Regions from separate parts of the Homo sapiens genome. Here regions 2, 3, 4 and 5 are each linked to region 1. The links come from fine-mapping of genetic effects on gene expression. A gene starts in region 1. Each other region holds a variant in brackets. All regions are shown on one strand. Distances are between the middles of the regions.

What was found.
Region 2: its variant is fine-mapped to the expression of PHTF1 in whole blood (TOPMed, PIP 0.96).
Region 3: its variant is fine-mapped to the expression of PHTF1 in whole blood (INTERVAL, PIP above 0.99).
Region 4: its variant is fine-mapped to the expression of PHTF1 in NK cells (Gilchrist 2021, PIP 0.90).
Region 5: its variant is fine-mapped to the expression of PHTF1 in whole blood (INTERVAL, PIP above 0.99).

Annotation. Positions count from the first base shown.
Region 1 is chr1:113,756,717-113,761,822 of GRCh38, forward strand. It overlaps PHTF1 (putative homeodomain transcription factor 1), which reads right to left and starts at 2,770. Exons shown (of 19, transcript NM_001323043.2): 1 at 2,307-2,770; 2 at 1,943-2,017; 3 at 983-1,039. The coding sequence starts at 1,987. RefSeq lists enhancers at 1-364, 2,643-3,222 and silencers at 1,410-1,539, 2,173-2,492.
Region 2 is chr1:113,718,794-113,723,899 of GRCh38, forward strand. The region is part of intron 7 of PHTF1 (putative homeodomain transcription factor 1); the gene reads right to left. Among named protein-coding and RNA genes, the nearest start is that of PHTF1, 38 kb to the right of the region's middle. The variant T/C (reference allele first, on the strand shown) is at 2,317.
Region 3 is chr1:113,778,444-113,783,549 of GRCh38, forward strand. All of the region lies in intron 2 of RSBN1 (round spermatid basic protein 1), which reads right to left. Among named protein-coding and RNA genes, the nearest start is that of PHTF1, 22 kb to the left of the region's middle. RefSeq lists an enhancer at 2,268-2,317 and a silencer at 2,428-2,537. The variant T/G (reference allele first, on the strand shown) is at 2,450.
Region 4 is chr1:113,614,025-113,619,130 of GRCh38, forward strand. MAGI3 (membrane associated guanylate kinase, WW and PDZ domain containing 3) reads left to right here. Exons shown (of 21, transcript NM_001142782.2): 7 at 577-634. Among named protein-coding and RNA genes, the nearest start is that of PHTF1, 140 kb to the right of the region's middle. The variant C/CT (reference allele first, on the strand shown) is at 2,861.
Region 5 is chr1:113,861,274-113,866,379 of GRCh38, forward strand. The region is part of intron 1 of PTPN22 (protein tyrosine phosphatase non-receptor type 22); the gene reads right to left. The region is part of intron 3 of AP4B1-AS1 (AP4B1 antisense RNA 1); the gene reads left to right. Among named protein-coding and RNA genes, the nearest start is that of PTPN22, 7.9 kb to the right of the region's middle. The variant G/A (reference allele first, on the strand shown) is at 2,107.

The sequences.
Region 1 (5,106 bases):
TCAGAAGATAATTTAACCCTCTCCTCCCCTATTATAAGTTAATAAACTGGCATTCTGAATTATATAACAGTTTTTGGTCACTTGGTTAGTATAAAATAAGAATCCTCTCAGTTCTAAGAGCTGTGTAGAAAAAAGTTTAAGAACCTGAAAAACTTAAAACCATACTCTAGGCCGGGCGCGGTGGCTCACGCCTGTAATCCCAGCACTTTGGGAGTCGGAGGTGAGCAGATCACAAGGTCAGGAGATCGAGACCATCCTGGCTAACACAGTGAAACCCCGTCTCTACTAAAAATACAAAAAATTAGCCGGGCGTGGTGGTGGGCGCCTGTAGTCCCAGCTACTCTGGAGGTTGAGGCAGGAAAATGGCGTGAACCCAGGAGGCGGAGCTTGCAGTGGGCCAAGATCACGCCACTGCACTCCAGCCTGGACGACAGAGTGAGACTCTGTCTCAAAAACAAAACAAAACAAAAAAACAAACAAAAACACATACTCTAAGCCAGTGATTGAATAAAATGGGGGACCATAGGCTGGATTCAGGCCACAAATGGATTTTATTTGGCTTGCAAAGGAGGAGGAGGAAGAGAAGGAAGAGTCTCTTAAAAATCCGACACAAAATGCACAATATATTTCATATAAAAATGTGTATTTCCAGCTTCTCTTGAAAAATCTGAAACTCTGGCAATATTTGGACCTGCACTGCCAAGTGGTAAAAACTAGCCAGAGCTAAGTAACCCCAGCCCTATTTATATGGGACATTTGCTCTCTAATTCATCATAGAACAACTCACTCCTTTCTGTTTTCCTGATAGTGAGGCCAAAAATCAAGTGTCACTTCTCATTATGCTTGCACTGCTTTTCTTATAACCTTCAAAGATTAAAGAATGCCATACTGGTAGTTAAATGCAGAGTTTACCAGGTAAGTACAATTCCACTCTTCATATTAATGCAGTGAAACATAGGCGGAATCAAAGAAATCAATTTACCTTAATCTGAGTCTGTTCGATTGACTTTTCCCATATCTGCTGATCGTAGGCTCCAATCTGAAAGAGGGAGTAGTCTATTAGTTAAACGATGCAAAGGAAATCCTTACATTATTAAGTCAAGCCTCATAAAAGTCATGAGCCTATTAAGTATCAATATGCTATGTGGAAAATATGCTTCTCAAAAGTTAGAATAAATCAATACTTCGAAGGACTGTTTCCTTCAAAAATCTAAAATAGCTGGACCTAAAAGTAAGTTCAAAAGCAATGCCCAAAATATTTCAAATTAATATTACCTTAAAAGATATTTCCACTTCTTGGGCGGGCATGGTGGCTCACGCCTGTAGTTTGAGACCAGCCTGACCAACATGGTGAAACCCCGTCCCTACTAAAAATACAAAAAATTAGCCGGGCGTGGTGGTGGGCGCCTGTGATCCCAGCTACTCCAGAGGCTGAGCCCGGGAGGCGGAGCTTGCAGTGAGCCGAGGTCGCGCCATCGCCCTCCAGCCTGGGCAACAAGAGCGAAACTCCGTCTCAAAAAAAAAAAAAAAAAAAAAAAATCCACTTCTTAAGGAAAAGAGCACTAGAAAAACTAGAGAGGAATAAAAGATAAGGAACAGCTCAATAAGATTGTTGATAGTATCAATCTGAGCTGTGCACATACAGGTTTCATGTCTTTTTTGTTTTTAAGCAGTTTGATCAGAAGCAAACTTTCAAAGCATTGCGGTGGCATTGTGTATGCAGCCTGAAGGAGGTGGCTTGTAAACCTTATTCTGGGACCTGGAACCGGGTTTAAAAGACATAATGACCTTGTACATCTTTTTTTTTTTTTTTTCATTTATGTTGAAGTATACATGAACACCTGGCACTACTAAACTCGGGGGAAAGTAACATTATATTATTTGTGGGAGCTTTTTGCAGGAAGAATGCTTTACAAATAAAAAAAATATATATATGTATTACCTTCTTTTGGTACCACGATATAGCATCTCTCTCATTTGAGGCCATCTGTGTCTCCAGCCAGAGAATGGGATTTCACTGAAAATGAAGGAAAACCAATCGGTGAGTCCAGCTGCTGAAGGTTACTCTCCCAGTTTGGGTAGGACGCGAAAACCGCTTCTCTCAGCCTCTCCATGAGCTGCTCTTTCTCCAGCTGTTTGCCAGGGAAAACACAACAAACAAACAAAAAAAAACTGGCGCAGCGGCGACCGGAGAAGCCTCTGCAATATATCGGGCGAGCGTGTTCGTGGGTGCGGGGGAGGGGCAGGGGCCGCCGCTGGAGTCGCCCGGCACCCGCCTCCTTCGCTCGCCCGCGTCCGGCTCTCACCTAGTGCCCGTTGCCCCGCGGGCCGGCGCCCGGGACCTCCGTCCTCAGTGCCCGGGGTCCCACCGTGAGGCCGGGGGCGAGGCGGCGGGCCAGGCAGGCCGCATCTTCCCCTCCAGGCGGAGACGCCGGAGAGGCCGTTACCATGGAGACCGCGGAGGCCGCCCCAGCTTCGGAGGCAGCCGGCCGCCCAGCGCCCTGAGGGCGGCAAATCGATCGCCGGTCAGAGGCCGCCTACAGGGTCACGGACTGACCAGAAAATAAGCAGAGAATGAACTGGAAAATGAGGGGGATTAAAAGTGAAGGCCTCCAGTCGCCACGGCGACAGCAAAAGGCTTTGTGCCCAGCTGGAAAAGACAGGTGCAAAGGCCCCGGACCCCGAGAGCCCGGGAGCCCGGGAGGAGGAGGCGGCGGCAGCGGCGCTCGTCTTCTGCGGGCCGCGCCGGGATGCAGTGACTCAGCCGTCTGAGATCTGGGCTAGAGCCGCTCAGCCGACCACCGGGCAGCAGCCTTCGGCTTCCGCTTTCCGGCTTTCGCCGCCGAGGTGGCTCCGCCCCTGGCCCGGGGCCTTCCCGCCCAGCCTTGGTCCAGGCTCCGGGTCCGAGGGCCTGGGGAGTCGCGCGGCATATCGATGGCCAAGAGCAGCTCCCTCAGATCACCCTTCAGGCCTCAGCTTAAAAGTCACTTCCTCACAAACGACTCTCCCATCCAGCGGTCTAAAGGAGGTCGGTCCTGATACTCTAGTAGCTCACGTCTTTGTGGCACTCATTTTCGTGTTTCATGGCTTAATCTCTGTTCCCCAGTGGGCTGTGGGCTCCATGAGGTCAGAGACTGGGGCCTGGCACAAGCCTGGCACTTAGGTTCCCAATGTTTGTTGAGCGAACGAATCAATGTTTGCGTGAATTTACGCTGCCCTGGGAGGAAGGGCCAGGCTGCGGCTTAGTGACTCCCTTCCTCTCCCGCCCCTCAGCAGCTCTGGGTCTGGAGCTTTCTAGTGCTCAAAGGTGTAGGGGGAAAAGAGGAACAAGTATTGGGCAGTCACAGCTTTTTCCAAATTAGGGTAAAGTTAGGTGGCGGCAGGAACAGGTTAATTAGGGCCGATAGAGGTCAGGAGAAAGGAAAGAAAGGTTGAACCCTCAAGTGAATATTTAAGGATACGTTAAAAGGATTTTTAGGCTGCTTTTTTTTTTTTTTTTTTTTTGGCCATTAATGGAACACTGTCCCCTTACAGCCATTCTCCCCACCTTATTTGAAGCCGTGTTCTTGCTAGCCCACAGCGTGTAGCATCTGGGTCAGAGAAAGCTAATGACAGATGATAGCTTCACTTAAGAAAGCCTAAGAGGCGCTGTACTCAATGTTTTGCAGACATTATTTCTTCTTATCTATTGAGTGGGCACCAGGTGGAAGTTATCCCATTTCACGGATGAGGAAAATCGACTAAGCTAAAATAACTCCCACAGGACTAAGTTTTACAAATTACTTCACCCAGCCTGGGCGCAGTGGCTCACGCCTGCAATCTGGGCGCTTTGGGAGGCCTGAGGCGGAAATGTAGCTTGAGCACAGGAGTTTGAGACCAGCCTTAGCAACATGGCCAGACCCCGTCTCTTAAAAAAAAAAAATTAGCCGGGGGTGGTGGCGCGCACCTGTAGTCCCAGCTACTTCGAAGACTGAGGCAGGAGGATCGTCTGAGTCCACGAGTTCGAGGCTGTAGTGAGCTATGATTGCACCACTGCACTTCGGCCTAGGCAACAGAGACCTGTCTCAAATAAAGTAAAAATTATTTTACCCTTATTTTTATATTGCACACATTGGCAGTGGTTTCCTTCTGCTTTTGCTCCTTGACAGCTTTTCCTTTCCTTAGTGCTAAACATTACAATTCTGTTGAGCTTCAAGACAAATGGCCAACTTGAAAAAAGAGATAAATGACAAGTGAAAAACGTCGAATTTTGCACACGTAAATATTTAACCTCAATTACATTAATAGCAAAAGTACTTTACTTCACTGTTTGGCACACAGATTTTCAGGGAGTGTCTGGAGGAACTGAATCAGGTAAGAAGTATTAGAGAATAGTGGTAAGTAGTAAACCATTTTTCAGGTGCCCTGTTGGAAACTATTCAGTGCTTCCTGCGGCTACCAGCGAACAAGGTCTGAATCCTTGCTCCCAACCAATAATCTGTGATCTTAAGCAATTTATTCAACTAACAAGCCTGTTTTCTCACCTGTATTATGGAGATAGTCACCTTCTTAAGGATGTGAGGATTAAATGAGAAACCCTCATATAAACTGCCTGGCCCATGGCAGTTACTCAAAAAATGTGAAGTCCCTTTCTTTTCCTTTCCTAGACAGAACCAAAGGCTATCAGTGCTTAGGACAGGTACCTCAATTAAAGATAACTTCACACAAAAACTGATGAGGAAAGAAATCCATTTTGTTGTGTCACATTAATACATCAATGACATAAAAGTCTATACGCCATCTTCATTAATACTCAATGCACTTTCAAGAAAATCCACATCACCAGAATAAAAATTTAAGACTGTCCTCTTTTAAGTAGATACACACCAATTTAAGCAATTAAGAGGCATTAACTACAACAAATGTCAAGTGTATTTTTTCTTCTTCCCCCAAACTAATTGCATCTCAATATGGATGGAATTTTCCCCAGACATCTTTAGGAAAGAAGTCATAAGATTTTCTAAAAATTTTTTTTGAAGTAGTAGGGGATACAGTAGGTGAGGGATTCGTCCTCTAAAAACAGGTTCCAGGTATTTAGAACTCACATATGCTATGCATTTTGTGATG
Region 2 (5,106 bases), 38 kb before region 1:
GCATGGGGACCCTGGGTCCGGCCCACGAAACCACTTTTTCCTCCTAGGCCTCCAGGCCTGTGAAGGGAGGGGCTGCCATGAAAGTGTCTGACATGTCCTGGAAACATTTTCCCCATTGCTTGGGTATTAATGTTAGGCTCCTTGCTACTTATGCAAATTTCTGCAGCCAGTTTGAATTTCTCCCCAGAAAATGGGTTTTTCTTTTCTTCTTTTTTTTTTTCTTTTGAGACAGAGTCTCGTTCTGTCACCCAGGCTGGAGTGCAGTGGCGTGATCTCAGCTCACTGCAAATGCCACCTCTTGGGTTCAAGCAATTCCCCTGCCTCAGCCTCCCAGGTAGCTGGGATTACAAGTACCCACCATCATGCCTGGTTAATTTTTGTATTTTTTTAGTAGAGATGGGGTTTCACCATGTTGGCCAGATTGGTCTTAAACTACTGACCTCAGGTGATCCACCCACCTCAGCCTCCCAAAGTGCTGGGATTACAGGCGTGAGCCACCACGCCTGGCCTGGGTTTTTCTTTTCTATCGCATAGTCAGGGCACAAATTTTCCAAACTTTTATGCTCTGCTTCCCTTATAAAACTGATTGCCTTTAACCACACCCAAATCACCTCTTTAATGCTTTGCTACTTAGAAATTTTTTCCGCCAGATACCCTAAATCATCTCTCTTAAGTTCAAAGTTCCACAAATCTCTAAGGGAGGGGCAAAATGCCACCAGTCTCTTTGCTAAAACATAACAAGAGTCACCTTTGCTTCAGTTCCCAACAAGTTCCTCATCTCCATCTGTTACCACCTCAGCCTAGACCTTATTGTTCATATCACTATCAGCATTGCTGTCAAAGCCATTCAACAAATCTCTAGGAGGTTCCAAACTTCCCACATTTTCCTGTCTTCTTCTGAGCGCTCCAAACTGTTCCAACCTCTGCCTGTTACCCAGTTCCAAAGTTGTTTCCATATTTTCAGGTATCTTTTCAGCAACACCCCACTCTACTGGTACCAATTTACTGTATTAGTTCATTTTCATGCTGTTGATAAAGACATACCTGAGACTGAGAAGAAGAAGAGGTTTAATTGGACTTACAGTTCCACAAGGCTGGGGAGGCTTCAGAATCACAGCAGGAGGTGAAAGGCACTTCTTAGATGGTGGCGGCAAGAGAAAGAAGAAGCAAAAGCAGAAACTCCTGATAAACCCATCAGATCTTGTGAGACTTATTCACTATCACGAGACTAGCACAGGAAAGACCAGCCCCATGATTCAATTACCTCCCCCTGGCTCCCTCCTGCAATACGTGGGAATTCTGGGAGATACAATTCAAGTTGATATTTGGGTGGGGACACAGCCAAACCATATCAAGTAGCTATACTTATATTGGTCAAAATAGACTTTAACTATAAAAAGAGTTAAAGGTCATTATATAATGATAAAGGGGTCAATGCAGCAAGAGGACAAACAATTGTAAATATATATGCACCCAACACTGAAGCACCCAGATACATAAAGCAAATATTATTAGAGTTAAAGAGAGAGACAGACTCCAATACAATAATAGCTGGAGACTTCAACCTCATTTTCAGCATTAGACAGATCATCCAAATAGAAAAACCAACAAAAAAAATTGGACTTAATCTACACTACAGACCAAACAGACCTGACAGACATTTACTAAACATTTTACCTACTGGCTATAGAATACACATTTTTCTCCTCAGTGCATGAATCATTTTCAGGGATATACCATATTATAGCCAAAAAACAAGTCTTAAAACATTCCAGAAAATTAAAATGATATCAAGTATCACCGGGAGGGTACAGCCTCCCTCCTGGCTGCTTTCATGGGCTGGTGTTGAGTGTCTACGGCTTTTCCAGGTGCACAATGCAAGCTATTGGTGGATCTACCATTCTGGGGTCTTGAGGACAGTGGCCCTCTTCTCACAGCTCCACTAGGAAGTGCCCCAGTGAGAACTCTATGTGCGGGTGCCCACCCCACATTTCCCTTCCACACTGCCCTAGCAAAGGTTCACCATGAGTGCCCTGCCCCGGCAGCAAACATCTGCCTGGACATCCAAGCATTTCCATACAACCTGTGAAATCTAGGCAGAGGTTCTCAAATCTCAATACTTGACTTCTGTGCACCTCTACAAAAAAATACAAAAAATTAGGGAGGGAGGGATGTGGTGGCACATGCCTGTGGTCCCAGCTACATGGGGGACTCACACACAAGAATCACTTGAACTGGGAAGCAGAGTTTGCAGTGAGCCAAGATCATGCCACTGCACTCAAGCCTGGGCAACAGACTGAGGCTCTGTCTCAAATA[T/C]TAGTAACAATAAGATAAAATAAATAAATAAAAAGATCATTCATCACGACCAAGTAGGGTTATACCAGGGATGCAAGGATGGTTCAACATACATACAAATCAATTAACGTGACACATCATACCAAAAGAATGAAGGAAAAAAACCATATAATCATTTCAAATGATGATGAAAAAGCATTTGATAACATTCAATATCCCTGCATGATAAGAATTCTCAAAAATCAGGGTATAGAAGGAACATACCTCAAAACAATAAAAGTCAAGTCACATAACAGACCCACAGCTGGTATCATACTGAATGAGGAAAAACTGAAAGCCTTTCCTCTAAGATCTGGAAAATGACAAAGATGCCCACTTTCATCACTGTTATTCAACATAGTACTAGAAGTCCTAGCTAGAGCAATCAGACAAGAGACAGAAATGAAAGGCCTACAAATTGGAAAAGAAGAATTCAAATTACCTTTGTTTACAGATAATAAGATCTTATATTTGGAAAAACCTACAGATTCCACCAAAAAACTATCAGAACTGATAAACAAATTCATTAAAGTTGCAGGATACAAAATTGACATAAAAATCAATAGCATTTCTTTTTTTTGAGACAGAGTCTTGCTCTGTCGCCCAGGCTGGAGTGCAGTGGTGTGATCTTGGCTCACTGCAAGCTCCACCTCCCGGATTCATGCCATTCTGCTGTCTCAGCCTCCCAAGTAGCTGGGACTACAGGTGCCCGCCACCACGCCCGGCTAATTTTTTTTTTTGTATTTTTAGTAGAGACAGGGTTTCACCATGTTAACCAGGATGGTCTCAACCTCCTGACCTCGTGATCCGCCCGCCTTGGCCTCCCAAAGTGCTGGGATTACAGGCGTGAGCCACTGCGCCCAGCCAAAAATCAATAGCATTTCTATATGCCAACAGCAAACAATCTAAAAAAGAAATCAAGAAAGTTACACGATTTCTAATAGTTTCAAATAAAATTAAACACCTAGCAATTAACCAAAGAAGTGAAAGATCTCTATAATGAAAACTATAAAACATAGATGTAAGAAATTGAAGAGAACGCAGCCGGGCGCAGTGGGTCACGCCTGTAATCCCACCACTTTGGGAAACCAAGACGGGCGGATCACGAGGTCAGGAGATCGAGACCATGGTGAAACCCCATCTCTACTAAAAATACAAAAAATTAGCCGGGCACGGTGGCGGGTGCCTGTAGTCCCAGCTCCTCTGGAGGCTGAGGCAGGAGAATGGCATGAACCCAGGAGGTGGAGCTTGCAGTGAGCCGAGATCATGCCACTGCACTCTAGCTTTGGCGATAGAGCGAGACTCTGTCTCAAAAAAAAGAAATTGAAGAGAATGCAAAAAATATGGAAAGATATTCCATAGTTTATGAACTGGAAGAATGACTATTGTTAAAAATATCCATATTAACCAAAGCAATCTACAGATTCAATGCAATCCCTATAAAAATAACAATGACATTCTTCACAAAAATAGAAAAAACAATCCTAAAATTTACATGGAATTGGCCAGGCATGGTGGCTCACACCTGTAATCCCAGCACTTTGGAAGGCCAAGGTGGGCAGATCACCTGAGGTCAGGAGTTTGAGACCAGCCTGGCCAACATGGTGAAACCCCATCTCTACTAAAAATACAAAAAAAAAAAAAAATTAGCCAGGCGTGGTGGCAGGCGCCTGTAATCCCAGCTACTCGGGAGGCTGAGGCAGAATTGCTTGAACCTGGGAGGCAGAGGTTGCAGTGAGCCGAGATCGCGCCATTGCACTCCAGCCTGGATGACAGAGGAAGACTCCATCTCAAATAAATAAATAAATAAATAAATAAATAAATAAATAAATAAATAAAAATAAAAATTATATGGAATCACAAAAGACCCAAAATAACCAAAGCTATCGTAAGTAAAAACAACAAAACTGAAGGAATCACATTACCTGACTTCAAATTGTACTACAGCACTATAGTAACCAAAGGAGCATGGTAGTGGCATAAAAACACATCGGCCAATGGAACAGAATTGAGAATCCGGAAATAGATCCATACATCTACAGTGAACTCATTTTTTTTTTTTTTTTTTGAGACAGGGTCACACTCTGTCACCTAGGCTGGAGTAAAGTGGTGAGATCCTGACTCGCTGCAACCTCTGCCTCCCAGGTTCAAGCAATTCTCCTGCTTCCACCTCCCGAGCAGCTGGGATTACAGGTGCCCACCACCACGCCCGGATAATTCTTGTATTTTTAGTAGAGACAAGGTTTGGCCATGTTGGCCAGGCTGGTCTTGAACTCCTGACCTCAAATGATCCCCCCGCCTCAGCCTCCCAAAGTGCTGGGATTACAGGCATGAGCCACTGTGCCCGGCCAACAGTGAACTCAGTTTTGACAAAGATGCCAAGAACATACATTAGAGAAAGGACAGTCTCTTCAATAAATGATGCTGGAAAAACTGAATATTCACATGCAGAAGAATGAAACTAGACCCTTATCTCTCACCATATGCAAAAATCAAATAAAAGTTAATTAAAGAACTAAACCTAGGACCCCAAACTATGAAATGACTAAAAGAAAACATTAGGGAAACTCTCCAGATGTTGGTCTGGGCAAAGATTTCTTAAGTAATACTCCACAAGCACAGGCAACCAAAGCAAAATGGACAAATGAGATCACATCAAGTTAAAAAGCATCTATATAGCAAAGGAAACAATCAACCAAGTGAAAATACAACTCACAGAATGAGAGAAAGTCTTAAATTATCCATCTGACAAGGGATTAATAACCAGAATAT
Region 3 (5,106 bases), 22 kb after region 1:
TGCGCCACCATGCCTGGCTAATTTTTGTATTTTTTTAGTAGAGATGGGGTTTCAACACGTTGGCCAGGCTGGTCTTGAACTCCTGACCTCAAGTGATCCACCCGCCTTGGCCTCCCAAAGTTTTAGGAGTACAGGTGTGAGCCACCAAGCCTGGCCCCAATCTTTTTCTCTACTCAACTTATGACAAACTTATTTCTACCTCCAGTGATTTTTCTCTTGAATCTGCCCAATCTGGAATGTCCTCTTTTCTGTCAACCCAAATCGTATCCATCTTTCAAAGAGCAGTTCAAAAGCTCTTTTTTTCCAGAAGTCTTTCTGGTCACACTCCATGATCTCTCCCTTCTCTGAAGTCTAATGTTACCTATGAGCAACATATATTTTCTCTATATCAACTCTCCAGTGAATTTAGGACATATCCTACATAAATATGCAGCCCAGAGCATCCTATCTAGCATCTGAATGGAATCTATCATTAATTCCATACAATCTGATACTATTCCTCTAGTCATTTCATGTATGTTCTTATCTTATGTAATCTCCAATTTAGAGTTTCTCAAGGATAGAGAGATGGATCCTGTACATAGCAATGGACTAGACTAGAAATGCTGTATTTAACCAGAATTTCCACTTCAGATCAGTTACCTAGCATTTTCTACCTCTGTTAAAATGCAGATTAAATTTAAAAGCCTAACATATAGCTGTACCTTTATATAAAATGGCTCTTTAATGAACATTAAAAAAAATTTAAAGAATCTACTGTCATGTTTTAAATACCACCTATTTTGCCTTAATAGGAAACAGTCTACATAAATGACCATCTAGGATATCTTACCACAATTCTTCACCATTTGTTCTTTAGCAGCATTTTTAGAATCAATTTTTTTCCATAGACAATTTAACATCACCCACACATATATACACAGAAAAAAAGGCTGTAGATCTTGTTCTCAAATAGCAGGGGTAGGGATTTTTTAATTCCTTACAAATCCTCCCCCCAAGATCACTTTAGATGATTCTTAAGCAGCAGCCACCCAGGCCAGAATTACTTTATATATATTCATATGAATTACTTTCCATAAGTTTGGTATGATCATCATGCCATAAAAAGCCAGGGGTGGCAGCATGGAACAAAGGCTCATCATGGGATATAGAGATAAGGAAGGGGAAGAAAGGTAAGTCTTTTTAAATCATTATTCTAACCTTTCTAAGCACTCTAAAACAACTAAAGTAGATTTAACCTTCAGCAACATTTCTAGGAATCATATGCTTTTAGGGGTAATAAGAAATTATCAGTCTCGGCCAGGCACGGTGGTGCATGCCTGTAATCCCAGCACTTTGGGAGGCCAAAGCAGGTGTATCATGATGTCAGGAGCTCAAGACCAGCCTGGCCGAGATGGTGAAATCCCGTCTCTACTAAAAATACAAAAATTAGCCAGGCACGGTGGTGCATGCCTGTAGTCCCAGATACTCGGGAGGCTGAGGCAGAGAACTGCTTGAACATGGGAGGCGGAGTTTGCAGTGAGCCAAGATCGTGCCACTGCACTCCAGCCTGGGCGACAGGGCAAGACTCCGTCTCAAAAAAAAAAAAAGAAATATCAGTCTCCCCCAAACACCTCTCCCAACTATTCCCAGTCTCAGAAATTCCTTTACTAAGAAAGGCTTTCTCTCTATACAGGCATTTTATGGGACAAATGTCCTAAAGACCTATCATGATCTTTTTAAAATCTTTTTCCCAGCCAGAAGTGACTCTTAAGACCTATCCTAATTTAAAGCAGCCAAAACTCAAGACCAATCCTAAAGAAGTACACTGCCATGTGGCAGTTTTCAATTTACTTGGCCTGAGATTATACAACTCAATGCATTATTAATTTGAAGGAATTCATACTACTTTAAATTTTACACACAAAGTGAGACTGAATTAATATTCTTATATCACACCACTCCAAGTTTACCTAATTCAAACACCACTAAACTCAACAGCACTGAACTTGAAGACAACTTAGAAAGGTAAACACCTAGAATAATCAACATGTGACATGAATAAATATGAAGCATCTTTTCCTATTTGCAAAGAGAATAAAAAGTAAACCTAAAAAAGAGGAAGGCGGGAGCAACAGAAGACAAAGAAAGGGTATGACCACAAAATATAGCGACCTCATAATTTCGCCAAGACCAACATGTTTATTTTCATATATACACAAAGAAAAGCTTCTCATCTTACGAGGATCTTCAGGTTCACACCTTTGTGTGAGTACCAATGTTGTATCCATGAGTGACAAAGAATTAACAATGTTCAATTTTTATTTCCTGGCAGAAGAGCCATCAAGTAAACAACTATGCTACAAAATACTAGGACTGGATTTTGAAAGCTGCAATGTATAAAGCCTATTTGGATAACTGTAGCTAACTTAGCCTAGCTAGAGAAAGCCCTTATTAGTAAACCACAACC[T/G]TCCTGTTTTCATTCCTTTACTTACATGAAATTAGACCTCTAGCTTTCTGTGACCTACGTTTTTTTCTCAGTATCAGTCCCCTCCTTCTTTCAGCTGCTTCCATATCTAGTCTAAACCTCAAGGTTTATCCCTCTCTCATAAACACACTCTCATCCTCTATCCCAGTCCTTCCACCAGCCCTGCCTGCAAACCCCAGGCCTGAAACATTCAAACTATCCATCCCACCTCTGGACTTTTCCATTCCATAGGCCAATAAATCTCTTTCATCATTTAAGCCCATTTTAAAATTGACTATCCTGCAACTTGCCATCAAAAGCACCAAGATATATATACCTTTTTCACATAAGAATCCTACTTCTGTAATACTAGTCTGTAGTACCTGTCTCTATTGCCTCACCTCACCTTTTATTCACATCTCATATCATTGCAATCAGGCTTCTGCCCATACCACTCCCCTGAAACAAATCACTGATGACCTCTTCACAACCAAATTCAAGGAATGCTTTGCAATCACCTGCTTTCTTGATTTCCCTTTCCAGGCTTCCTCCTCTCCAAAACGTGGTTGTTGCAGAGTTGGCCCAGTTTTCATTCCACATATTATCTGTGGGTGGTTTCAATTATACTACAGATTTAACTACCACCTGTACCCTACTACATTCCATATCTACATCTCTAACTTAAAACTCTGCCTCAGATTCAGATCTTAACATACAAATGCCTCCTGGGCAGCCCACAGACACCCTCAAATTTAATACCTACAAAACAGAGCTCGTTTTTTTGTAAGGTTCCCTTCCCCTCCCAAACCTTCTTTTTCTCCTTCTGTATGTACTTCGCCGGTTAATAATATTCATTTTCTCAGGTCCTAAATCAGGAATTGATAAATCCCTCTTCCTCATCACTTAAATCAAAATCTATCCTTCTAACTAAATCTGCAGTACCACTGCCTTAATTCAGGAAATTATCATTTCTCACCTAATTGTAAAACCTCTTAACCAGTATCCTTGCTTCAGGATTCCTATCCCCAAGAGCCATCCTACATACTGCTACAAATAATCTAGGAAAAAACATCTTATCATTCAACCTTCCCATTTTAAATCCTTTAGTAGCTCCATATTACCTGTAGCATCAAACTAGAAAATCCTTTTTAAGGAAGACAAAGCCCCTCCTGATCTATTATTCCAAGGGAATAACAGACCAAGATTTGCCACATTCTCCACATTTGCCACATTCTAAATATACATTTCGCAAATTCTAAATAATTTCTGCTGCCTCCACAAGTTTTCACATGTTATTGTCCACCTTTACAACTCCTATATTTCCTTGATGGTATAAAATGACTCAAAATAAGGTTTCAAGCTCAAAGAACGAAAGTACATAACATTTACAGATTTTAGGTAAGTTAGATTTGGAGTTATAACTAGATCAAAAAAGGTAAGGAATAGATGCATAGATTTGGAAATTGTCTATAACATATAATTTTTTAAGTGACTAAGACTTGAGAGAAAGAATAGAAAGAGACAGAACCAAGAACTGCACTTAAAGGAAAACAGATATTTGACAGACAGGAGGAAGAGTTAGCTAAAGAAATTGTGAAAGGATGAGTTAAGAAGTAATGCAATTAAAATGATGTAAGAATAACGTTTCAAAAATGGTCAAGGACAACTATTTTTTAAGAAAAACAAACTGGCTGTTATGAATAGTGCTGCAATAAACATGGAAATGCAGATCTTCAACATACTGATTAAATTTCCTTGAGTTGGACATATACCAAGAAGTGGAATTGCTTGGTCATGTGGTCGTTCTATTTTTAATTTTTTAAGGAACATCCACACTGTTGACCATAATGTCTGTACTAATTTAGATTGACATTAACTGTATAAAAGTTCTCCTTTTTCCATATCCTCACCAGCATTTATTTTTTGTCTTTTTGTTAACAGCCAGAACTGGGGTGAGGTGATATCTAATTGTAGTTCTGACTTCCATTTCCCTGATGATGAATTATGTTGAACATTTTTTCATATACCTGTTGTATGTCTTCAAATTTCAGAATGTCTATTTAGGTCTTTTGCCCACTTTTAAATCAGATTATTTCGTTGTTGTTGTTATTGGGTTGTTTGAATTATTTACATAAATTTTAGGCCACAGGGCAGAAAATACTATCTGGTCCTTAATAGAAAAAGTTTGCCAACCCCCAATTTAAACCACTCACAAAAGAAATCAAGCAATATGTTTGAATACAAACTTTGTGAAAGAGAACAATCTGTATTATTCAATATTATATATCTGTAATACAAAGTGCCTGGTATGTAGTCATAAATATTTGTTGAATTTCTGTATGTTAAGGCTAGAAATGAAGTAATCAACCACAAACTCTGGCAAAAAGAAAAAAAAGGGGTGGAGGGGGAGAAGAAGAACTGCTGATTACCAGTCTATCACTTGCATTTAAAAATTTAATAAATGCAAATGTTTGTGATACATTTAAATAATTAACAGCATAACAATGAACAGCAGTTATGACCACAAATTCAACATGCACCAACTTTCAACCTGAAAAGGCTGACAAGAAAAAAAAAAAGAGAGAAAAAAATAGATAAAACAAAAAAACATTCACCAACTGTAGGAAACTAATGCCAAACAAGCAAAGTATTCCTTCTTT
Region 4 (5,106 bases), 140 kb before region 1:
AAATACAGATTACACAAAGCACTGTGGTAGTTAGATTAGTGTTCCTTCAGATACTCAGATCTTGTTCACCAAGAGAAAGCAGGTACTTTTGTAGGTTTTAAGCAAATCTAGATTGCTCACTTGAAATGACAAAAGTCCAAGGCTAGGGTTTCCTTTGAGGAGAAGTGGGTCTGAACATAACATCAAAAATGACTATGTATAATAGTAAAAAATTGAACAGATACCTGCTTCTTCTATTGGACTACAAGGGTAAATATGTCTTGTGTCAGCATGATCAAGGTTTTTAAATGAAAGAAGTACACAGTAATTTTTATTAGCATTTTTATGGCTTGTGGTTCATATGAACACCTTTTTGTTTAATGCCATCTTCTGTTCTGGGCTTCTGATTGCTTGCTGAAATTCTCACTGGCTGGTGAAGAAGCCACTCAGACTTAAATTGTGTTTGTTCCTTGAAAGTGAGCCCTCAGCTTTCTGACACCCAAATATTAGTATAATGAAATAATAAATTCACTCACTGGTGAATTCTTTTCTGTCAGTTTTGAATCTGGCATTTCACTCAATTTTCTTTATTTACAGAGCTTCCTTATGGCTGGGAGAAAATAGAGGACCCTCAGTATGGGACATACTATGTTGAGTAAGTTTGTTACCTCAGTTAATATTCTCCCAAATATTTTCCTTTCAGCATATAGCTTTAGAGAATACTGGATACAGCACTTTATGCTTCTGTGATCCAGCTGTTGAGTTTTTCAACTAGGGGAATGAAAAGGTAGGGGCAGTGAGCATTTGCTTCATTGACCTTGGGCTTCCTGGAAGTTGGCTTTGAATTTCTAAATATAGAGAATAAGGGGGAAGTTGCCTAGACAATTAATAGCTAGAGATGGTATTGTTACTACTACAGCCTCTAAAGAGAAAGTCAGTTGATAGAAAACTGAAATGAGGGCAACAGACTAGATGAATTATCAAGGTCATTTCCAACACTACCACTGTATCCTTCTGAAAGCAGTGGAAGATCTTTAGGGCATTATAACATAATTATCTGAAGTTTTGAAGCATACACCTAAAGGTGTGCTCTCTTTTAAGGAGTTATTCAAGGAAAACTTAGTATTCTTTTTAGGGGTGAAAGTTGCTTCTTAGGCAGCTGCTATGGTTAAATTTAAACATAAATATATATTGGAGAGGAGTGCCAGACACCTGCCTATGTTAGCCAGAGAAATTAAGCTAATATCAATGTCTAATTTTGCCTTCTCTTTTCTTTATCTAATTGCTACAATGTTATGACCATTGGGATTGCTTTCTTTCCAGATGCTAAACACTGAATTTGACCTCAAGCGTCTAGCAGCAGGCAAATACTTCTATCAGAAACATTACTATTTACCTGGAGACTAGGAGTTAAACCTGCTGCCTAGGTAGCAAAGACAAAATGTTATTATTACCTGAAAAAGTAACAAACACAATCATCTTTAATTTTATAATTGTTTCTTAATGTTTCAACACTTATAGGCATAAACCAATGCCATTTCCTGGTAGTTATCCCTAAAGTAAGTATCTCTGACTCCTGTTGCAACTGTAGTCTTTATTCTATTGTGCAGGTTGTTACTTGAGTCACTGTGGTTAGAGGGATTTTTGGAATGACTTCTTAAAATTAAATGTGTCTCCTAAGGAAATGACTCAATTAGATTGACACTTAAGTATATAACTTTAGAATTTCAATATCTTGGTTCCTTTGAAAGCTATGCTAATTTTGTTTCCATTGTGTTACTTAATGTCTTACTGATACTGTGATGTAAAAAGTATACAGCAGCTCTTTTATTATTATTTTTTCCTAAGACTTATTTTGTTAAAGGAAGAAACAACCATTTTTCACATCAAAGGAGTATTTGGGGGCCGACTGAAAAGGTTTTGCAGGATTTTTTTCTTCCCCTCAAAGTTTAGTCTATTTAAATTGGGCTCTAATCAGCTATTTGCCATTGACACTGCTGAACATTTCTGAGATAATGATTCTCATTCTCTTTATTATCCATTCCAAGTGAATTTGAATACATGGTCAAAAGGTGAAAGTCATTTGCCTGTTATAAAACCTTGAGCTGAATGATCTGGTCCCCATTATGCAAAGATATAATATTAAAGCAACTTTAGGGCAAATCCTGAAGCGACCTGCTCCTAGTTGTCAGGGAGGTACATGAAATAGCCTGAATTAGAAGCAACAGCAGCAGCGACATGATTTTGTATGATTATTCCCAGAATGAGCTCATTTTACAGGAGGGTTTTGTATTAGACTAAGAAGGAGCAGACTGTACTCAAGATGCACATTAGTATGGAGTCAGCTGAGCTGTGGAGTGTGGCTTGATTCCCAGATTAGTTAGGTTTTGAATCTCGACCATAGTAATCTGCAGTGAGTTTACTGATGGAGATAAAAAGCTGTTACTTGAATGGCTACTCTTTGGCTCTCTTAGTTTGTCAAACCAGATGGCACGATGATTGCTCTTGGCAGGAGCCTTGTAGTAGTAACACCAACTGCAGTGGTAGTTTTTCTTTGTATTTATTTTAGAGGATGGGATTCTGAAATGGATGAAGTTATTTTTTAAAATAAAATTTTTCCAAAAATGTAATATGCTTATAATATGCATAAATATAAATATGCATAAGCTATAAATATGCTTATATATTTAGAAATGCGGTCTTGATTATATTGCATTACATGTCTTTTTAAAATTAACATATAATTATACACATTTTGGGGGTACGTAGTGATGTTTCAGTACACGTAATATATAGTGATTAGATCAGGGTGATAAGCATTAAATGTCTTGATGCACCTAGATGACAAAGTCAAAATATATACTTGCTTTCACAACTAAAA[C/CT]TTTTTTTTTTTTTTTTTTGAGACGGAGTTTTACTCTTGCCCAGGCTAGAGTGCAGCAGCACGATCTTGGCTCACTGCAACCTCCGCCTTCTGCCTCCCAGGTTCAAGTGATTCTCGTACCTCAGCCCCCCAGTAGCTGAGATTATAGGCATGCGCCACCACACCCACCTAATTTTGTATTTTTAGTAGAGATGGGGTTTCACCATGTTGGCCAGGCTGGTCTTAAACTCCTGACCTCAAGTGATCCACCCGCCTCGGCCTCCCAAAGTGCTGGGATCCCAGGCGTGAGCTACCATGCCCAGCCATCTAAAACTCTTTATGAAAGAATATTTTGTTGAGATAAATTTTTAAATCCAGATATTAGACATAAAATTTTAATACAGAAAATGTGTCAAATTGTGTACTAATATTTAATCATTCTTGTTTGCTTTGTTTCTTTCTGATAATCTGTAATATTCTCCTCTCTTATTTCCCACAGCTAGTTATTTGGAAAACAAAATTTGTTGTGTCTTAATAATAGTGTAGGTATAAGTAATTAAATGAAAAGGACAGTATTTTCACTTTTTTATTTTTTGATTTTTTTTGAGTGGCATTTTAGTCTAGATAGTCTAAGATAATGAAGACAATAACTTCCTTCAGTAAATCTTATATTCTTTTGTCAAATTTTTAGGAAAAGGATTACTCATTTGCATACGTCTACTCTCCTCTCCCACACATTACAAAGGGTATAAATACAAATTACTACTTTTTATGTTCTAATGCCTGGGTGGCAAAGTGAGTCATTCTAGCCAATGACTTTAAAGTGAAAGTGAGCCAAGGTTCTTTCTGAACAGGTTTATTCTTTTCTGAGTGTCAATTTTTAGTTGTTTTTCAAAAGAATATGTAAAATATCAGTACCTAAATAAATTTTTTAAAGTAGTTCCTAGGATTTTTATTTTCACAGAGTTAAACAGTTAACTCAGTGGACAGTGTATCCCCCGCATATTATGAAGCAGAAGCATACTTGAGTGTCAGTGAAATCAGAACCCAAACAATGTCCAGTGGCACTTACCATATTTAGAGCTCTTAAACTATTTAATAAGTAACTACGTCTGTTGTGGAACTGATATGTAGTAGTAGCCTGAGTGACATGGAGAAAGCTAACATTCCTTTTTTTGAAAGTGTTTTTTTAATTTTTAAATTTTTATTTTAGTCCCTGCTGCCCATTTCTCTACCACCACTCTTAATGTTTACAAATGGCAAAGCTCCAGCGTGGACAACATAGTAAGACCCCATCTCTACAAAAAAAAAAAATTTTTTTTAATTAGCTGGGCATGGTGGCACACACCTGTGGTCACAGCTACTCAGGAGGCTGAGGTGGGAATATCGTTTGAGCCTGAGAGGTTGAGGCTGCAGTGAGCTGTGATTGGACCACTGCATTCCAGCCTGGGTGACAGAATGAGTGCCTGTCTCCAAAAAAAAAATAAATAAAGAAATAAAAAGGCAAAGTAAATGTTCAACTTGTGTGACTATTTATATGTACATTTTGTAATATTCAGTCTACCTAAAAACAATCATGTTCTGAAATTCTCATGATTTGGTATTTAATTGTTGGTGTTCACTCATATCACCTCTTTATTTTTATTTTTTATTTTTTTTGCCGTGGAGTTTCACTCTTGTCGCCCAAGCTGGAGTGCAATGGCATGATCTCGGCTCACTGCAACCTCCGCCTCCTGGGTTCAAGTGAGTCTCCTACCTCAGCTTCCTGAGTAGCTGGGATTACAGGCATGCACCACCACGCCCAGCTTATTTTTGTATTTTTAGTAGAGATGGGGTTTCACCATGTTGGCCAGGATGGTCTCTATCTCTTGACCTCGTGATCTGCCTGCCTTGGCCTCCTAAAGTGCTGAGATTCCAGGCGTGAGCCACTGCACCCGGCCTCACTTCTTTAATTAAAGTGGAAAACTGTAGCATATGCTGAAATATATTTGTACTATGGAAGTGTTAGAATATGATTTCCATTGCTTCTGAATTAGACCTATTCGAGGTCCTAAACATCTTTTTTACAGCATTTCCTTTCTTAACCAACTCCACTTAACTGGCTTGCCAGAAGAATAGTGCTCTTTTTCTTCTGTAAAACATACTATCGCCCATAGCGTGTTGAATAGTTTGGCTAATCTCCTAGCGGCTAGTCTCCCCAGGCTTCCTGCTTTCTCTCAGAGAGTTGTATGCATTCCAAGAGTCAGTAGTGAATGTTCCCAAATCAT
Region 5 (5,106 bases), 100 kb after region 1:
TCTATCGCCCAGGCTGGAGTGCAGTGGCATGATCTCGGTTCACTGCAACCTCTGCCACCCAGGTTCAAGCAATTCTCATGCCTCAGCTTCCAAAGTAGCTGGGGTTACAGGCGCCCGCCACCATGCCTGGCCAATTTTTTGTATTTTTGGTAGAGACGGGGTTTCACCATGTTGGCCAGGATGGTCTGGAACTCCTGACCTCGTGATCTGCCCGCCTTGGCCTCCCGAAGTGGTGGGATTACAGTCGTGAGCCACCGCGCCCGGCCAATTTTTTTTTGTATTTTTAGTAGAGACAGGGTTTCGCCATGTTGGCCAGGCTGGTCTTGAACTCCTGACCTCAAGTGATCCCCCCACCTCGGCCTCCCAAAGTGCTGGGATTATAGGCATGAGCCACCGCGCCCGGCAGGCTTCATTTTTCTCTTCCACCTCTCTTCCTGCCAGACTCCCGGGCTCCAATATCCCAAGAAAGAACAAATTAGGGCAAAATTAGGGCAGAAAAAGTAATAAACTACACCAGAAAAGGAGGAACCCTGAAAGTAGAAAGCAAAAGGGTATAAAAGAGGAAGCAGGGTCATGGGGATGGGTTTAAGTTTGTGAAGAAAAGATATGAGATCTAAAGGGTGAAGGTATTTCTTTGCCAACTACAAGGTAGGGGTGTGAGTTCCCTAGAGGAAGTACCATCAAGAGAAGTCAGGGGAATAGTTGCCAAGAGGATAAAGTGAAGAGACTGGGTGCGGTGGCTCACACCTGTAATCCCAGCACTTTGGGATGCCGAGGCAGGCAGATCACTAGGTCAGGAGTTCGAGACCAGCCTGGCCAGCATAGTGAAACCCCGTCTCTACCAAAAATACAAAAAAAATTAGCTGGGCATGGTGGCAGACCCCTGTAATCCCAGCTATTCAGGAGGCTAAGGCAAGGAGAATCGCTTGAACCTGGAAGGCAGAGATTGCAGTAAGCTGAGATCACACCACTGCACTCCAGCCTGGGTGACAGTGTGAGACTCCGCCTCAAAAAAAATAAAAATAAAAATAAAAAAGAGAATAAAGTGAAGAGAGAGCTCAACATCCCTCGTGGGCCCTGAAATAGGGTGGAATGTGTGAGAAACCAGATTCTGTGTGTGCTTGATAAGCTAATAGTAAGTTCATTTGGTTTGTAGATGATACTACCCCTTTCGTTTCAAGAAAGGAGAGGAGAATGGGGATCCTGGCCAGTATAACAAGGAGTATTAGATTCTAGAAATTCGGATTGAGTCATTTGCATGTTATTCTCACAGACTAGTAAATAAAATAAAGTCACTCCCAAAAAAGAACAGAAAGTAAAAGAAAGCACAAGACCACGATATCTTTGCCTTGAAGGACTACATTACTGGATAGAAGACGTAGCATTTTAGATACATTTTAGGGAGAGGAAAATTAAACTTGGCCCTCCTGTGCTAGGTGGGAGAACACAAAGTTTGGCTGTCTCGAGAACTCTGCAAGGTAGTTCCTCAGTGCCTTGCAAATATAGGTCAGTATTATACCAAGCCTCCATCAGGACAGAAGAAGTACAAGTGGTAAGGAATGGCATTAGGAGCTCAGGCTTCTAAATCCAGTAATCAGGAGAACTACCAGTAGGAATGGAGGACAAGACTGAATTGTACGAGCGTGCAATGCAATCATCTTCAACAAGACTGACAAACTTATCGAGGTTAGTTTCCAGTGCAATAGTGGGGCAAATGGGTAGGTGGGTAGGCAATAGCTAAATTGGGGTGAGTAAACCAAGAGGTTCAACTTTAGATACATAAAATGTGAGAAAATGGCAAGAAATGTGTGTGTTGTTGGTTGGTTGGTTGGTTTTTGAGACAGAATCTTGCCTTGTCACCCAGCAGAGAGTTCAGTGGCGCAATCTTGGCTCACTGCAACCTCTGCCTCCCAGGTTCAAGTGATCCTCCCACCTCAGCCTCCTGAGTAGCTGGGATTACAGGCACCTGCCACCATGCCCAGCTAACTTTTGTATTTTTATTAGAGACAGGGTTTTACCACGTTGGCCAGGCTGGTCTTGAACTCTTGACCTCAAGTGATCCGCCTGCCTCAGCCTCCCAAAGTGTGGGGATTACAGGCGTGAGCC[G/A]CTGCGCTCAGCCAAGAAATGTGTTTTAAGTGTCCTGTGAGTAAATGAAAATGTAGGACTAGATGGTCCCTAGTGAGAGGCTGGAGATGGTGTTAGAGAAATCAGCTTCAGAGGTGATGTGATACATTTATTCTGGTGGTGGCATTTTTAAAAATTGCACCTTAATGTGCACAAAGGTCAAGAAATGCTGATAAATATGTTCAAGTGATAGGCTGATTCACAGGAATGAGTAGTGTCAATTCATAGATGTTTGTGCACTTGCTCTGTAGGAAGTACCTTGTTGATAACTGTTTGGTTAGTATCATTACTATAATATACACAGAACCAGGATGTATCTATGTCTCCTTTATAGAACCAAGATGTAGCCAGATCTTTGATATGTCTCTGGTCTTCTAATGAATCTCCAGAAGTTGCAATAGTACCAGTCTGATTTCTAGTATAGTTTAAACTGTTAGCACCTAAACCTGGCCTTCAGAACTAGGTATCTTCTTTCTGTTAGGATTCAATGAATCCTTTATATTTAATAAATATATATATATATATATATATTTTTTTTTGACATGGGATCTCACTCTGTCATCCAGGCTAGAGTGCAGTGGCGCGATCTCGGCTCACTGCAACTTTGCCTGCAATCCCAGCTACTCGGGAGGCTGAGATAGGAGAGTCACTTGCGGTGAGCCAAGATCGCACCATTGCACTCTGGTCTGGGCAAAAAGAGCAAAACTCCATCTCAAAACAGACAAACAAACAAACAAACAAAAAACTGAAATTGTGGTAAGTGCTATGAAAAATAACAAATGGTGCTAATAAGAACTTACAATAGAAGATTTGATCTATTCAAAGAGGTCCAGAAAGCTTTCTCTGGCCAGGTGTGGTGGCTCATGGTTGTAATCTCAGCACTTTGGGAGGCTGAGGCTGGAGGATCACTTGAGTCCAGGAAGTCAAGTCTGCAGTGAGCTATGATCAAGCCACGGCACTCCAGCCTGGGTGACAGAGCAAGACCCTGTCTCCAGAAAAAAAAAAAAAGAAAGAAAAGAAGAAAAGAAAAGAAAGCTTTCTTTGAAGAATTGACCACCAAATTGAGATCTAAAGAATTATTAGTCGGGCATGGTGGCTCACACCTGTAATCTCAACACTTTGGGAGGCTGAGATGGGAACCCTAGAGGTTGAGGCTGCAGTAAGCCATGATCACACTACTGCACTCCAGCCTAGATGACCAAGTGAGGCCCTGTCTCAAAAAAAAAAAAAAAAAAAGGCCAGGCATGGTGGCTCACGCCTATAATCACTTTGGGAGGCCAAGGTGGGCAGATCACGAGGTCGGGAGATCGAGAGACCATCCTGGCTAACACAGTGAAACCTTGTCTCTACTAAAAACACAAAAAATTAGCCGGGCATGGTGACACACACCTGTAGTCCCAGCTATTCAGGAGGCTGAGGCAGGAGAATAACTTGAACCCAGGAGGCAGAGGTTGCAGTGAGCAGAGATCGTGCCACTGCACTCCAGCCTGGGTGACAGAGCGAGACTCCGTCTCAAAAAAAAAAAAAAAAAATTACCAAATGTTATCTAGGTAAAGAGGAGTGTGAGGAATGTTCAAGGCGGAGGTAACAACATGTGTGCAAGGCCCTATGGCAGAGGAAGCATGGCAAGGACAAGAAAATGAGCATGCTATAAGAAGCTGGAGAGACACCATGTAGGACATTGATAGCCATTTTAAAAGGTTCTTTGGGAGGTAAATGAAGTTCTATTTGTGAAGCACTTTTAGCACAGAGTCTGGAACACAGTTCTATGGATTAGCTGTTGTTACTGTGGAAAGTAGATGAACAGAAAACGTATATAAGGAAATGCAGATTTAAAATAATCATGGAACATTTTAAGGCTCAGAAATCCAATGAATGAAATTAACATAATAAAGTACTATTTTATGCTAGTTATATCAGAAAAAAAGTCATGATTTTTACCTGATACAGTTTAAGTACAGAGGTTAAGAGGCTTTGAAAAAAAACAGACTGGTTTCAAATCCGGGCTTTTCCATTTCATGGGTAAAAATGAACATAATATTTTCCTCTTGGGGTAGTTGTAACGATTAAACGAGATCACGTACGGCAAAGCACTTAGCAGATTGCCTAGTACATAGTAAGTAGGCAAAATGTTTTCATCTTTTATTCTCTTTTATATTTATTAAGTCTAGCAAGGTGGTAGAGAAGATGATAAATTCATATATTGCAAATTAGAAAAACTCCTTTGGAAATACATTTGGTAATACTTAACCAATTAGATGCTAATAGTCTTTGACCCAGTAATAACATTTTTGGGGATCTAGCCTAAGGATTAATCCAAAAGAAGGGAAAAACCACATGGAAAAATATATTCATATTAGTGTTATCAATAATCATGAAAAACTAGAAATAACTGTTTAACAATGGAGAAATAAATTATTTGGGTATTACTATGTCTCAGGAAGTTTATATACTTATTATCTTCACAGCAGTTCTTCAAAGTGAATATTATTCCCACATTTTACTGACTTAATCCAAGGTCACATAGCTAATCATGGGCATAACTTAAATTCAAACCAAGATTTATATGACTCCAAAGTTTTTATGACTTCAGATGACAAAGCAAGACTACCTGAAATTGAAATTCAGTTCCACCACTTACTAGCTATGTGACCCTGAGCAAGTTAATTGACCTCTCTGTTTGTTTCCTCACCTATAAAATGGAAATGAAAACAGTACCTTCCTCAATGGAGCAAATGAGTTTATATATGAGTGTTTAGAACAGTGTCTGTAAGAGGTATAGAAGCATTCTCTATTATGATTATTATTCTTTCATTATAAAACCAGATGGACAGGCTGGGCGCGGTGGCTCACACCTGTAATCCCAGTACTTTGGGAGGCCAAGGCAGGCAGATCATGAGGTCAAGGGATCGAGACCATCCTGGCCAACATGATGAAACCCCATCTCTACTAAAAATACAAAAATTAGCTGGGTGTGGTGGC